Regions from separate parts of the Homo sapiens genome. Here region 1 is linked to region 2. Evidence: fine-mapped expression QTL. Tissue or cell type: whole blood. Region 2 holds a variant in brackets; the other region holds the start of a gene. All regions are shown on one strand. Distances are from middle to middle.

Region 1 (8,101 bases), 71 kb before region 2:
CGGCATCCCCGCCTCCTCATAGCACCTGCACCGGCCACTGCCTGGTGGTGCCAGCCAGCACCTGGCTCTGTCCACCTACCACTTCCTCTGGTCCACCTGGCCTCAGCCACATAGCAAGTCCACCCTCTCAGCCATCCCTCCACCTGTGGGTCTCACCATCCAGCACTCTTTTCCAGGTCTTTGAAGGCAGGAGTGATTTGGGTAGGTTTTAAGTCAGTGGGGAAAAGCTCAGAAAGAGTGGCCTGGAAAAGAGCACACAGGTAGGTGGGGCTGGTCTTGGTGCAGCCCTTGGCAAAGGGCAGTGGGCACAAAAGGGTGAGAGCTGGACTGGAGGCTGGGCCCCTCCCCTCACCTCTGGTGGTTTGCACAGCTTCCCGGGACCCTTGAGCTGCCTACCCTGGCCATTTGGGAAAATTCAAAGGCTGTGCAGCTTCCTTTCCATGCCCTTTCTTTCCTTTTTTTGAGACAGAGTCTCGCTCTGTCACCAGACTAGAGTGCAGTTGGTGCGATCTCGGCACACTGCAACCTCTGCCTCCCGAGTTCAAGTGGTTCTCCTGTCTCAGCCTCCCGAGTAGCTGGGATTACAGGCACACACCACCACGCCCAGCTAATTTTTGTATTTTTAGTACAGACGGGTGTCACCACGTTGGCCAGAATGGTCTTGATGTCCTGACCCTGTGATCCGCCCACGTCGGCCTTCCAAAGTGCTGGGATTACAGGCGTGAGCCACCGTGCCCAGCCCCGTGCCTGTCCTTTCTTAGGAAAAGGCTTTCTTAGGAATGCCCTCCCAGGCAGCCTTGGGCCTCAGCTTCTGACCAAACACACCAGACCTGGTACTACCCAGTCCCGGTGGCCAGGTGCAAGAGTGTAAGGACCATTGTTTTTGGCTCTGCCCAGGGCCACAGCTCTGGGATCACACACTCCCAAGCTTGGGGACTATTCTTGGTCCCTGTTGTACAGGCCCAGGTGGGGTACAGGTCAGGCCTGCTGAGGACCTCTGCACCGTGGGGCCCCTCTCCCTGTAACTCATCCCACCGGCTGGTTCCACAGCAGCTCCCAGGAAGCTGCCACACATTCCAGCAGCTGCCCTAAGCCACTCTGAGCCTGCATTCTTGGGGTTCTCCCACTGCTCCATGATGGTAGCCTGGCCAGACCTAGGAGACTCCCTGCCACTGGATGTGGCCCAGACATTTCTGGGCAGGGCCCCCAAGTCCAGTTTGGGGCAGATACCAAGTCTCCCTTCCGGCTGGGCTTAGAGCTCTTCCCTGCAGCATGCCCCCTTCATCAGCTGCTCTCTTCTGCTTCTAGCTTTATGTCAAATGTCAAAAATGTGTTAATTCAAAGTGCCTAGAACAAGGCTAAAAACAGTGAGCTCTCAGTGGCTATGTTAGATGGCTCTAGACACCCCCATTCCGAGGTGCCTGGCAGGGGCCAGCACTGACTCCCAGGCCACACAGCCCCTGGAGGAGGAAGGTTACCCAGAGTGCCCCCAGCAGGGGCTGGCACAGGTGCTGGTTGTGAGCACCATTCTGGGCAGGCTGCCAGGCCAGCAGGGTGGGTACAGGCTCTGTAGGGAGCTGCGCTGGGACTGGCAGAGGAGCCAGGACGAGGGGCTAGAGCCAAGCTGTGGTACTCCAGGCAACCAGCTGCCAGCACCTCCTCCCATGGCAACCCTACTGTTGACCGGCGTGTCCTGCATTCACCCCTGTTCCTGCCCCACCCACCATTGGAAAGGGCCTGGTCGGGGATTCTACAGACCTCTGTGGCCACTTGATGGGGCTTGGGACTAGGCAAGCCCTGAGAGGGCAGTGGAAAACCTCACCCTGTGCTGTGTGGGGCTTGGCCCTTTCTGGGAGAAGCCAGCGGCCTGGCTGCTCACCCCCAGCACTTCCCACACCGCAGGACCCCCACTCACCAGCCTGTGTTGAGGGCGCTTCACCCCGCATCTTCTGCTGGGGTCTGCCGCTGCCCCCGCCCCTGTCCCATCCCGGGCCCCAGGGCCCCATGACGCAGCAGCTCTTCTGACCGCAGATCCCGCCTTTCTGGGCTGTAGTAAGTGGTGGCTGTGTCTCCCACCTGGTGGGAAGGTGGCAGGGAGGATGGGGAAAAGAGCCCCAGCCTCCAGCCCTGGGAGGAGGTCTCCACAGGAGTCCTTGGGAGGGCGGGGCTGGTGGGTGATGAATGGGGCTGCTGGACACGGAAGATGGCTGGACAGAGAACAGGACACAGGTGGGAGAGAGTTCAAACCATTTACTAAGCAGATTCTTAGCCTTCCCACTCCCGCCCTCTCTCAAGCTCCGGTGCCCACAAGCCTTGCCTGGGGAGATGCTGGAGTGAGACCGGGAGGTCCAGGCCAAGTCACTGGTCCCTGGGCTCGGGCCCTGCCGATGGAGTAAAGACCAGCTGTACACATCTTCCGGTGGGGGCCCTGGGCTCTGCATCCGCCCCTCCGAAGTCAGCAGGAGCCTCTGGGAAGTAAGGCAGCAGCCAAGACCCCCAGCGTCTTGGAGGGGAAGCGAAATCCTCAGTCTGACACCCGCTCTGCCTATGGAAACAGCGCCGCGCACAGAAAAGGAAACTTCATTCCGTCTGTTAAGGGCAGGGCCGGGCTAGTGGCAGGAGAAGGTCAGCTGCGGGCGCAGGCAGGAGCGGATCCAGGAGCCGCGTCGGGGCGCAGAGCCGGACGTTCCGAGGAGCCTGCGCGCCGCGCTACCCGGCGGAAGCCGCGGTCCATGCGGGGCTCCCCAGGCTTATCCAACGCCTCGCAGGCGTGGCTGGCAGGAGGGGCCCGGCCGTGCCCAGCGCCCTCAGACGTAGTTCTTCTTGTCGTAGTCGCCGGTGGCCGTGGGCCGCCGCGGCGCTGAGTACTTCACGGGGAAGCTGAGGTCGGGACGGCCGGTGCAGACCCAGGCGCCGCAGCACAAGAGGCAGCCGCCTACCATGAGCAGCGCGGTGGCCGCCCAGCCGATGTACAGCGCTGCGCCCAGCTCGTACTTCTGCGACACGGGCACAGACGGGTCGTAAAACTCGCGGACGACAATGTTGGCGAACCAGCAGAGTGGCACGAGCGCCAGCAGCCCGCAAAACAGGTAGAGCACGCCTCCCGTGAGGGCCACACGCGCCTTGGCCGGGCCCGGGGCCACGCAGGTGGTGCACTGCGCGCCCGCCAGGGTCACGAAGAGCGCAACGAACGCCAGCAGCACGGCGCTCACGGTGAGCGCCCGCGCCGCCTGCACCTCGGTGCTCAGAGCCAGCACCGAGTCGTACACTTTGCACTGCATGTGCCCGGTGCTCTGCACCACGCACGACATCCACAGCCCCTTCCAGGTGGTCTGCGCCGTCACGATGTTGTGGTCCAGGAAGGCGGTCACCTGCCACATGGGCAGCCCGCACGCCAGGATCAGACCCCCCCAGCCCACCAGGCACAGCACCAGGCCCAGGATCTCCAACGCTGCGGACCCCATGGCTAGAGGCGAGACGCGCACCCGAAGGCCCGCAGAACCCCCAAGGCCGTGCTGCGCGGCGCCCTGGGCGGGCCCTGGTGCCTTTGCGCCCGCGCTCCCGGCTCTTGGCCCCAGTCCGTTTGCCCCGCGGGTCTGTCGCACCTCCTGGGTCTGCCAGCTCCTGCCGGGGGGTACCCTCTTTGAAGGTTCGGGGGCGGATTCTGTCCCCCGGGCCCGGCCCCCCGGCCCGAAGCAGCCAATCCGTGCGCGGGTCATCGTGCCGCAGCCAATCACAGAGCCTCTGGCAGCTGAAGTTAGGGAAACAACGGCTCTTGAGGGGTAGCTGAGGGCGCGGGACCGCTCCCCGCCCGGCAGCCGCCCCCAGCCCCACCCGCCGTTGTCCTAGTCGCGGCCGAGCGCATTCTGGGCTGGCCTAGGGCGCGCTTCTTGGGCCGCCTCCCTGCGCGTCCCGGCCCCGTCACTTCAGAAGGCGCTCGACCCCCAGTCTGCACCACCCAGTCCACTCCCACATCCCCGACTGAGCCGGGTGGTCTCTTCCACTCGAGCCAGCTCCACTTCCCTGACCAAGGTTTGCAGAAGCCCCCCACCCCGTCACCGCCGTAGAGGCCCTCGTAGGGGGGCTCTCCAGAAAGCCCGCCCCGGGGTCCAAGCCCCACCCAGGCCCTTTCTCGCACTCTCACTCTCCAGCCCCGCTCTGAGTCCCAGCACTGTCTCTCTCATCCCATGGCAAACAGAGAGGCCAGGCAGGCGTGTGGAGGTCAGGCCCAGGGCCCCAGCCTCACCCCCCATGCCACTCACTGCCTCTCTGGAGCCTGAGTCTCTGGCAAAAAGCGGTGGCACAGGGGCTTTCCCCCTGCCTGGCGACCCCCACTCTCCCAAGCCGCAGGGGCTTCCCAGACCTCTCAATCTTCACAGGGGCTGCTCCTCTTCCTGCGGTACTGCCCGCACCCCATCCTTGGGGGCCCAGTTCAGGTGACACCACTTCAGGAAGTTCCCAGTGACCCAGCACACTGGGTGTAGCACCCAGGGGCAGTGGTGGCCCCAGGCCTAGCAGCCTGCTCTGGCCTTCAGACAGGAGAGACAAAGGGACACGGAGGGGCTGTGCCCTGCCCTCCCACCAGTGGCGATGGTGTCCCTGGCACCCCAGCCCCCAGGCCACCCTCCGGAAGCCAACTTGGAGTTTCCTGGCCAGGAGGAAGAGCCCCCATCCTTGCTGGAGGAGGGAGGCGCGGGATTTCCGGGCATTCTTCTGCACAATGGCCCAGCCATTTCTCGAAAGGTCCACTGGTGTGGACACTCCGGGCCCCCTGAGGCTCAGGTGGGGGCACGCGGCTCCAAAACCCACAGCCCCATGGGGGCACCAGCCCCTTTCTAGTAGTTCTTTCCCCAGTCTCTCTCGGCCCCTTTGTTTCCAGTAAAGTTTGAACTCCAGGCCCTGGACTGAGGCCACTGGGTGCCCAGTTCTTTTATCTGGTCTGTGCTCAGTTCCATTGGACAGGGCCCTCCATAGAAAAAGTATGGCACTGAGGCTGGTCACAGATGTGGGAGGTTTGATGACTTTCTCCCTCCTGGGGCCCGGTTCCCTTCTCCCCCTTCAGATGGCTCTGAGATGGTAAATGAGATAAGGCCAGCGTCTGGCTCACCTAGTGTGGGGAGGTTCTGAAGGCAAGTGTGCCCAGCCCTGAGGCTGGAAGGAAATCATACCCTCTTTGCTCAGCCCCACGTGGCCTCTCCCCACCAGGTATGGCTCTGAGGACCACTGCCTTCTCCCAGCTATCACTTTAGTCACTGCCTTCCTCCTGCTGCAGACCCATGGGCCATGCCCCTTCCTCTACAGACCCTCCTGGACATCTCCTCCTCTGTGTACTCCAGGGGTACAGCTGACCCACCCACCCTCTCACTCTTACTACCCCCTAACCCAAGCCCAGGGAACTTCCCCAGATCCCCCTACTCCCAGCCCTTCCATGCCACCATCTTCCTGGGATGACTGCTGCGGCCTCCTCAGGTCATCAGGGACCTGCCCTTGCCCAGCTAGGCCACCCACCCCACCAGGCCCCTCTCCTGGGCCTCACCCTACCTAAGACCCTCCATGGCTCACATTGCCCATGGACGAAGAGCCGACTCCCAGAGCAGCTGGATTGATGTGTACCTGCATGCGCTAGGACTGGCCAGTCCAGCCACCAGTCTTGGTGCGGCCCTGAGCACACACTCTGCCCCAGGAGACTTACCTGCCTATGGGCCTCACATGGGCCGTCTCTTACCTTGGCCTCTTCTGCCCGCAGCGTGTATCTGTCAGGTTGGGTCCTGCTCATCTTCTAAGATGTGTTGCCGAGGTCATTTCCAGGAACACCTTGCTGCACCGTCCCCCAGCATTGCTTTTAGAAGCTTGAGCTGGACCTGTCCTTTTGCTTGCCGACTTTCCCACCTAGTATCCAGGAATAACCTCCACAGGGTGGCTGTCTTCATGCGTCTGTCCTGCACAGGAGGCTGCCTGTTGCCCTCTAGCCAGCTTGGAGCTGCAGCCAGCCCAAGGCTCTCCCTTCTCACCTGGCTGCCTGTTTTTCTTCTCTCCTAGCTGTCACCCTAGGGTGGCCCCAGCAAGCTCATGTTTCTTTGGCGGCAGCCTCACAGCATCTCAGGGACGTGGCAGAGGAGTCTCAGGCTTCACCTTTCACAATCTGGTTTCTACCCTGACCCCACTATGTTGGTCGAGGCCCCAGGCTGCAGTGGAACAATGCCAATGCAGAGAGGCCCAGAGAGGGCCGCAGGGGCTGACGCCACCCCAGACAAACCCACCTCAGATGGAGGCTGGCCTCTGAGTAGCCCAGGCCAGACTCCGGAGGGGCATGAGGGTGCACCCACCTTTCCTGCCACTCATGGAGGGTCTGCTCACCTACTTCGTGGCAAGCACTGTCTCTAGGCAGAGCACACAGCACAAGAAGCTCCTGCCCAGAAGGAGCTGACAGGAACCTATCAACCAAGAACTGGGCAGGAAAGACAGTGGTGAAGGCCTCTCTGAAGAGGTGACATTTCACAGGGATCCGGGGAAGAAGTTCCAGGCAGAGCAGAAGCAATAGCCAGTGCAAGATCCCAGAGGTGGGAAGGGGCTCGGCGTCCAAGGGGCAGAAGCGGCCTTGTGTCCACAGTGCCACAGTGGTCCAGGGCCTGCAGGTGGAGATCGGAGGTGTCCTGGTTAGGCAGGGACACAAACCCCTGATCTCTGGTAAAGGGCCCTTGGGGCAGAGCACTGGCCAAGGCCACCTGCTCACCCCCAGCCATTGTTCTGCTTTCCCAGGGGAAGAATGGCAGGATCTCATTAATTGTGTGTGAGAAGAGCCTGAGTCTGCAGAAAAGCCAAGTTTATCTTGAGCAGCTGCTGGCTGACCCTGCCCCAGGGTAATCCCGTGACCTTCCAAGGATAAGCTAAATTTAGGCTCAAGATTCCTGGGGATTTGGGTTTGGGAAACTCCTAGTTAACAGATTTGATTTCAGGGGAAGTGAAGAACAGCGTTTCTTCTATCTTTCAGTTTTGAAACAGTTAAGGATGTGTCCTTCTATTTCCGCAAATGTTTGCAGAGCCTCCAAGCACAGTGTGGCCTGGTGCTCTTTCTTGACACAAGCCAGTACTCCTGCAGGCCGAGAGCAGCAGCTGGGGTCCTCCTGCATCCCTGACCACTGCACCAGGTGCCCGAGGCACCCTGTGTGGGGCCCCTGGGCGGCTGTGACGATGTGAGCAGCATCCAGAGTGGACAGTGCCAGACTCGGCGGTTTTGCGGGCATTGTTGTTACTCTTTGTGGTTAAACACAGGCATGGAGTCAGATTCGCTCCCGCAAGCAAGAAACTTTCTGGACTAGTGAGGTGGCCTCTCTGCCTTAGTTCCTCACTGGTAACGAAGCCCCCCAATGGTGGAGGCTGCGAGGCTGCAGGGGAGGCCGATGCCAGTCCCGGTTCTCTTCTGCCTTTCCTGAGTGCCATCCACCCAGGCTCCCAGGGCCTTCACAGCTCATCCAACCTCAGCCGCACCCCTCAGGGTAGTCATCGCTGGCTGTTAGTCAGAATTGGAGGTCACTGTGGCTTTAACTTCCCCAGCGGGTGAGGGAGTGGGGGGCAGGGAGCTCTGGTGTGATCCACGAAGGGTCAAGGGTTCTATAGAATGGCAAGCCAGGCCAAGCGCAGTGGCTCACGCCTGTAATTCCATTCAGGAGGCCGAGGTGGGCGGATCACTTGAGGTCAGGAGTTTGAGACCAGCCTGTCCAACACGGTGAAACCCCGTCTCTACTAAAAATACTAAAATTAGCTGGGCGTGGTGGCACGCACCTGTAATCCGTTACTCGGGTAGCTGAGGTGGGAGAATCCCTTGAACCTGGGAGGCAGAGGTTGCAGTGAGCCGAGATCATGCCATTGCACTCCATCCTGGGCAACACAGCAAGACTCCATCTCAAAAAAAAAAAAAAGTCCACCAAAGTACATCATAAACCAAATTTCGTAAAACTGGTGCTAAAGAGAAAGTCTTAAAAGCATGGAGAGGAAAGGCCGGGCGCAGTGGCTCAGGCCTGTAATCCCAGCACTTTGGGAGGCCGAGGCGGGCGGATCACCTCAGGTCAGGAGTTCGAGACCAGCCTGACCAACATGGAGA
Region 2 (8,101 bases):
TGAGACAGGGTCTCACTCTGTCACCCAGGCTGCAGTGCAGTGGTACAATCATAGCTCACTGCAGCCTCAACCTCCCAGGCTCAAGCCATCCTTCTGCCTCAGCTCCCTGAGTAGCTGGGACCACAGGTGTGTACCATCATGCTCGGCTAATTTTTACATTTTTTGTAGAGATGGAGTCTCGCTATGTTGCCCAGACTGGTCTTGAACTCTTGGCCTCAAGGGACCCTCCTGCCTCAGCTTCCACAGTCCTGGGATTATAGACATGAGCCACTGTGCCCACATTATTTATTTTTGACAGCCAAATAGTAATCTGTCAGGTTAACATACTGTAATATATTATAGAGAAGAGACATTCCTCTCTGACTGGTATTTAATTTTACCCAAATTTTCACTATCGTGAATTTTGTTTAACTCTTCTTGGTTTTATGCAATTTGTAAAAAATCACTGTTCATAATTTGTCTTCCATGCAGTTCATGCCACAGCATTTGAGAGTGGGTGCTGCCCTCCTCCACCGTCCCTCTTCTATCAGAATTCCGCCACAAGAAATGTCCTGGCATTAACATTTTGGAAGCTGCTTTAGTGAGGGCCACTCTTGGGGCTGGACAAATGGCTACTTGAGGGTGGTATCTGCCATGAGGTTGGTCAGGTACAGGGGCTTGGCTGGCCTGGCCTGGTGTGGACTATTCCAAGGTCACGTCATCAACAACAAGGTGGGTTAGCTATGGTGCACATACTCCGCTACCCTAAGCAGCTGGAAACCTGGACAAAATGTCTGAATCAACTGTTTTCAGGTGTTGAGAAACAGGCCATGCAGAGCTGTGACCCCAGAGTCTACAGAAATGAGATGGCAAGGCGCCGCAGCTGCCCTGGGTTTCTGCCTTGGTGGGGTCGGGGGTGCTTCATGCACATCAAGCAGTGCGAGTGGCTTGGCTGCATTGAGGAGCGGAGATGGGGGGCTCTGAACAGCTGTGGTTTGTGGGCTGAGTCCTGGAGGGATGGGAACACTGCAGAGAGGGGGCTCCAGTAATCCTCAGGGTTGCCCCGAGCATTGGGAGATCCTAAGCTGTGTGTGTGCGGTGTGCAACGTCGTGGAGACAGGAAAGAACGAGTGACCAGGAGCAGAAAGGCAGCTGAGTCCAAGAGTTCACCTGTTCTGGGAGATGCTCGGGTGGCAGCCAGACTCAGTGGATGGCTCTCACTGAACTCCCGGGATGCCCTAGAGACCCCTGAAGAGCCCCACCTTAGTAGTGGAGCAAATAAGCTCTAGAGTAAGGGTGTCTTAGACCCTCCCCTGCAGAGCTTAAAACAAGGCTTCAAAGTGAGGTTGGAGGCGGGCCCCAATCTGGAGGCTTGGCTCATGCAAGGGACCAAATTGAGGCCTAGCTAAACAGGGAGGGGGCAGAAGCAGCTTTCCCTAAGATACACCCACCAGTGTGCCATGTCAGTTTACCATTGCCATGGCAACACCCAGAATTGACCTCTCCTTTCCATGGCAATGACCGGACAACCCAGGAGTTCCTACTGCTTCCCTAGAAATTTCTGCATAAACCACTCGTTAATCTGCATGTAATTAAAAGTAGGTATAAGTATGCCTGCAAAGCTGCCCTGAGCTGCTACTCTCTGCCTATGGGGTCCCCCTGCTCTGCAGGAGCAGTCACGGAGCTGCAACACTGCTGCTTCAGTAAAAGCTGTTTCTCCTACCACCAGCTTGCTCTTGAATTCTTTCCTGGGTGAGGCCAAGAACTCTTGAGGGCTAAGCCCCACTTTAGGGCTCATCTGCCCTGCCTCAAAAAAATCAAACTAGTCTGCCAGTGACTTTGCTGCTTAACCAGGCTTGGAAGAAAAGAAAACTATAGATCAAGGTCCTTCATGAACACAAATGTGAAAATCTTCAACAAAATATTACCAAATATGACTCAGCCATGTACAAAAAGGATTATACACCATAATCAAGTAGAGTGTATCCCAGGAGTAAATGGTTAGTTCAACATTCGAAAGTCAATCAACACAATTCTTCCTATCAGCCAACTCAAGAAGGAAGCATTTATGATCGGCTCAATAGATCCAGAAACGGCATTTAACAACATCCAACACCCATGTGTGACCAAAACACAGGAAGCCGGGAATTAAAGGGAATTTCCTTAATGTGATAAAGGCATCTACAAATGCCCTACAACTAGCAGCATGCCTAAGGGTGAAAGACCGAATACTTTTCCCCTAAGGGCCAGAGCAAGGCCAGGTTGTCTGACCCCATCATTTCTATTCACCATTGTACTGGAGGTTGTAGCAAGGGCAAAAGGTGAGAAAAAGGAAAGGCATACAGATTGGAGAGGAATAAACAAAACCATCTTTATTCCCAGATGATAGGATTTTCAGTGTAGAAAATCCGATGGAATCTACAGAAAAGCTACCGAAACTCACAAGGAAATATATCTACTAGCAAACCACTGAAAATTGAAATAAACATGTCCATTTATGACAGCACCAAAACACAAATTTGGTCATGAATCCTATAAAATATATGCAAGAGCTACATGCTGAAAACAATAAAACTTGGCCGGTGCAGTGGCTTATGCCTGTGATCCCAGCACTGTGAGAGGCTGAGGCAGGAGGATTACTTGAACCCAGGAGTTCAAGACCAGCCTGGGCAGCATAGCAGGAGCCCATCTTTATACCAACAAGGAAGAAAGAGGCCAGGCACAGTGGCTCACACCTGTAATCCCAGCACTTTGGGAGGCCGAGGCGGGCGGATCACTTGAGGTCAGGAGTTCAAGACCAACCTGGCCAATATGGTGAAACCCCATCTCTACAAAAATACAAAAATTAGCAGGGCATGATGGCCGGTGCCTGTAATCCCAGCTACTCAGAAGGCTGAGACAAGAGCATCGCTTGAATCCAGGAGGTGGAGGTTGCAATGAGCTGAGATCGCACCATTGCACTCCAGCCTGGGTGACAGAGCGAGACTCTGTCTCAAAAAAAAAAAAAAAGAAGAAAGAAAAAGATATATAAAAAGCTATAAAATGCTGATAAAAAAATCAAAGAATTCCTAAATAAATGGAGAGGTATATTGTGTTCTTGTGTTGGAATAGTCAATATTCCAAGGTTTACAAGATGTCAGTTCTCCCACACTGATCTAGAAATTAAACTAAGTCCCAGTGAAAATCTCTGCAGGTTTTTTGGTAGAAATCGACAAGCGGACTCTAAAATTCACAGAGAAAGGCAGGAAGCTACCATAGACACTACTCTAGAGAAGAATATGGTTGGAGGACACACACTATCTGATTTGAAGACTTACTACAAAGCTACGGTCATACAGACATGGTGGTGTTGGAGAAGGCATAGACAGATAGATCAATGGACAGACAGGCAGGCCACAGAAATCGCCCCACATGGCTGTGGTAGATTGCCTTTTGACAGTGTGAGGCCAGTTTAGTGGAGGATGGATTGTTTCGGGATGAAGTTCTTGGTTCAGAGGGTCTGAGACTCAAGGAGGAGTTCTGGAGCCCAGAGACACCGTTTTGGGAGGTGTAGACTTAGAGTTGGAATGGAGGACGTAGGAAGATGTGAGCTTCCCCAGGGAGATGGGAAGATGGAGGAGAAAGCTGGGGTCCTGACTCTGGAATAGGAGAGAGACAGGATTAAGAGAGGGACCTAAAGGCGGGGAAGCTCACGTCTGCACAATGGGGAACGTATCTGGGGAAGGAGCTGGCACATGCTGTCAGGTGCTTCTTTGAGCACAAGATGGCCCAGGCCGGAAAAGGGATTTCAGGGAGGTAAAGAAATGCAGAAGAATGGGAGAGCAGGGTGGAGACACAATGGTGCTGCACATCAGCCTGGTGTCACCCTCTGCTGCACATGGAGGGATGGGGGTCATGCCAACAAACAGCCATACAGTTTTCCTTCTTAGCTGCTTGTTTTTT[T/C]TGAGACATGGTCTGGCTTTGTTGCCCAGGCCGGAGTGCAGTGGCACAATCTTGGCTCACTGCAGTCTCAATCTCCCGAGCTCAAGCAGTCCTCCCACCTCAGCCTCCCAGGTATTTGGGATCATAGGCATGCACCACCATGCCTGGCTAATTTTTAAAATTTTTTGTAGAGACAGGGTCTCACTATCTTGCCCAGGCTGGTGTTGAACTACTGGGCCTAAGTGATCCTCCTGTCTCAGCCTCCCAAATCATGCTGAGATTACAGGCATGAGCTACCAGGCCCGGCCTCTCAACTCTTTTTTTTTTTTTTTTTTGAGACAGAGTCTCGCTCTGTTGCCCAGGCTAGAGTGCAGTGGCACAATCTCGGCGCACTGCAAGCTCCACCTCCCGGGTTCACGCCATCCTCCTGCCTCAGCCTCCTGAGTAGCTGGGACTACAGGCGCCCGTCACCATGCCTGGCTAATTTTTTTTGTATTTTTAGTAGAGACGGGGTATCACTGTCTTAGCCAGGATGGTCTCGATTTCCTGACCTCGTAATCCGCCCACCTCAGCCTCCCAAACTGCTGGGATTACAGGCTTGAGCTACCGCGCCCGGCCTCAACTCTTTAAAGTAAGATCTATCATCCCCATTTTACGGACAGGGGAACTGAGGCTGGGTTCCTGCCGCCAGCGAGTGGGACCCCTGGCCTTTGAGCCCCGGCCCTTCCCACCACCCTCTGCTGCTGGGGCTCAGCCCTCGGGCACGTGGTTGTGTTAATGGAGAGCCATGGCCATGACTTGGAGGGCCCGGAGAGCGTGCACATCATGCCTGCTTCCCATGATGCCCTGCGAGGTGGGCAGAGGCCGGGGGTGCTCAGGCCGAGCCCCTGCTACAGCAGATCTGAGGCACCAGCAGGGACTGGCTAGGTCCTCCCAGGCAGGCCAATGTGCCCGGGTCTTGGGCCTCTCTCTCTCACTCCTCACTGCCTCTCAGCTGCCCAGGCAGCGTCCCCTGCAGAGCAGCCCTGGAGCCTGGCCCCAGGCTGTGTTGCTGCCTCTTGCCCCCATGGGGCTGCCTCTGCAGGGAGCCTGAGTCGTTTCCTCCCTGGGCAGGTTTCAAAATGGCTAAGTCCAGTGGAGAAAAGAATGGCTCAAAGGGACCACAGGCTTGAATTTGAAAAAATAAAAATGCTCGATGCCAAAGCGTAGACGCACATTTATTTGAACGACTTACACTTTGACCTGAAACAGTTTTTTCCAAATTGTTTTCCACAGCGGTAATCTCTTCAAAATGAACACATGTGAGGTCTTCGAATGTATGTTAAAGGCCAGTATTTGTTTTTTTTTTTTTTTTTTTTTTTGCTTTGGAAGAACCGACCTCATCGTTTGCATGAGAACCTGATATTCTTGGTCCTCTGTACCTTTTGTAACTTCCTCTGAATGAGAGGAAATATGGTTTCCAGTTATGTTTAATTTACTTTAAACAAATCAAAGCACAGATTTCTACTTCCTGCCTGTGTAATACTTGACTGCAGGCAGCTTCAAAGGGCAGAATCACTGTTCTTGTGACTGTGCCTCTGTCGTGTTCTGTTATAAACAGTTCAAAGCTCTGCATTGTACAGGAGCGCGCGGAACAGCATGTAGAGATCTTTTTCTCTGTAGTGGCGGCAGAGCTGTGTGTGCCCTTTTGCTTTGCCTTGTGCTGGTGGTGGATTAAGTTTAGGTTTTCATAGAATATATATTTATGTAGAGACTCAGAGTTTATTTTTCCTGTTTTCTCCAGCACTGCTTAACTCATTCTCTGAAATGTTTATCACAAATGGCAGGTGGGGCTCAGAGGATGTCTCTATCTTTGTTCCTTGGCTTAAACTGGCAGGTTGTTGTAAAGGGCAGTGGGAGGGAAAGAAAACTAAGGGGAAACCAAATTACTTATTTAGGGCTTGATTTTCTGGCAGGTGAATTGGGCTTAGGAAACCCCACCTAGATTAGCAGCTGTTCCTGACCGGCCCCTCGCCAAAGCTGCACCCCTGGGTGGTGGTGGGGGCTTCAAATTAGGGTGTCCCAAGGGCTGGATTGTTCCAGCAAAGGTGTTCCTGGATTCCCAAAGCAAGTTCACTTGTTTTAGGAACAGTTCCCTGAGGCTCTGCAGGGGCTGCTGGGCTGCCTTGTCTCCCCAGGTCCATGACGCCAGGCCACCATCCATGCATCCTGTTGTGTGCTGGGACGGGGTGCCAGATGCTGGCATCCAGGAACAGAGAGTGGATTGCATGAACATGGCTACCATGCAGTTGGTTCTCTGCTGCTGGGGTGCAGGCACCTGAAAGACACGGAGGAGCTAACCCAGCTGAGAAGGGTGTGTGCCAGTCAGGACCTGGGGTGCAGGACACAAACATCACACCACTGGGTTGCACAAGACTTGGAGGAGGGGCCCAGGAGGATGACATCAAGGTCTGGAGGGGGTTGCTCAACAACACACCTGGATGTGCAGTGCAGGCATGGCACCTGCCTCTGCAGCAGGGCCCAAAGACTCGATGGGGCTGCCATGTGGCCTGATGTGAGTTGGAGTGAGGCTGTGACCCCCGGGTGAAAGCTGCAGCCTGCATGCATCGATCACAAGCGAGGGCTGGCTGTGTCCTCATCCCAGGAAGGGCGGGGTGAGGGCCTCACCACAGTGTGGGCAGGGCCCACTCACGCCCTGGGAAGTGAATCAGGAGGTGGCAGCAGGCACTGGGGCTCTCTAATCTCTTGCCCGTCTTTGTCCAGTTATTGTGAGAGCTCCAATTCCCTGTTCTTATTTCTCTGAAAGTGCTGATAAGATGGGTACAGAATAAATCAAATGCAAAGTTACGTTTCCTGGCTTAGGAAGCAAAAACCTAAGTATAACCTTGGAAGTGCTCCTGGGTACTCCTTTCTTTCCCCAAGGTGATTTTTCCCTCTTAAACACATTACAGTAAAATACATACAACATTCACTACTTTAATCATGTTTTGTTTGTTTGTTTGTTTGTTTGTTTGAGACAGGGTCTCGCTTTGTTGCCCAGGCTGGAGTGCAGTGGAGCAAGCACAGCTCGCCTTCTGGGCTCAAGTGATCCTCCCAAGTAGCTGAGACTACAGGTGTGAGCCACAGTACCTGACTGATTTTGAAAAAAAATTGTTTGTAGAGATAGGGTCTGGCTATGTTGCCCAGGCTAGTCCAAACTTCTGACCTCAAACTATCCTCCAGGCTGGGACTCCCAAAGTGCTGGAATTACACACGTGAGCCACTGTGCCTGGCCCACTTTAATTTTTTTTTTTTTTGAGATGGAGACTCTGTCACCCAGGCTGGTGTGCAGTGGCACAATCTCGACTCACTGCAATCTCCACCTCCCGGGTTCAAGTGATTCTCCTACCTCAGCTTCCCTAGTAGCTGGGACTATAGGCATGCGCCCCATGCTTGGCTGATTTTTTTTGTATTTTTTAGTACCAACACCATGTTGGCCAGGCTGTTCTTGAACTTCTGACTTCAAGTGATCCACACATCTCGGTCTCCTAAAGTTCTGGAATTACAGGTGTGAGCCACCGCACCTGGCCCCACTTTAACCATTTTTAAGTGCATTAAGGACATTCACAGTGTTGAGCAGCCAGCACCATCACCATCTCCAGAACGTCGTCATCTTCCGAGGCTGAAACTCTGTTCCCATTGAACACCACCTCCCCACTCCCCATGGCTGTCTCAGGAGCTGGCCTGAGCACTGCTGCCCTCAAGGTCACTCTAGAAGTGGAGCTTCAGTTCGGCCCCCACTTCCTGTGGCTCTATCCCTGCAGGTGTGCCCGGGATCCAGAGGTGGCCCCATGAGGCCTTGTCCGAGCAGGTCTGGCTGGACCCTTGCTCCTCTTGGAGCTGGGTAGGGCTGGGTGGGCTGCGTAGGGATGTTCAGGGCAGTGGTCACCTGTTGCCCAGCTCTGGGTGGAGCCCTGTCTGAAGACAGCTGTTCTTTTCTAAAGAAAGAAGATCTGTCAGACGTTAGTCATCTGCACCACTGTCACAGCTGACGTTGATTGAGCTCCTGTGTCCTGGGCACTGTCCCAAAAGCCCCCTGCATGCAGTTCTTGCCATTTAGTACCTTTTGTTTTGTGTTTACTGAATGGATACAGCCGGAAGCTAGCTAAATTTAACTCACGCCCTCGACTTGGGTGGAGGTGAGGAAGGGGCTTTCTGAGGC

Evidence for each region. PIP is the estimated chance that this variant, and not a neighbour inherited with it, causes the effect.
Region 1: it holds the start of CLDN5, and the variant in region 2 is fine-mapped to the expression of CLDN5 in whole blood (TOPMed, PIP above 0.99).

The regions. Positions count from the first base shown.
Region 1 is chr22:19,520,792-19,528,892 of GRCh38, forward strand. CLDN5 (claudin 5) reads right to left here and starts at 3,619. Exons shown (of 1, transcript NM_001363066.2): 1 at 2,236-3,619. The coding sequence starts at 3,464. The coding sequence ends at 2,808. RefSeq lists an enhancer at 1,302-2,234.
Region 2 is chr22:19,592,131-19,600,231 of GRCh38, forward strand. No RefSeq gene overlaps it. Among named protein-coding and RNA genes, the nearest start is that of LINC00895, 29 kb to the left of the region's middle. RefSeq lists enhancers at 4,251-4,793, 5,829-6,329, 6,330-6,830. The variant T/C (reference allele first, on the strand shown) is at 3,922.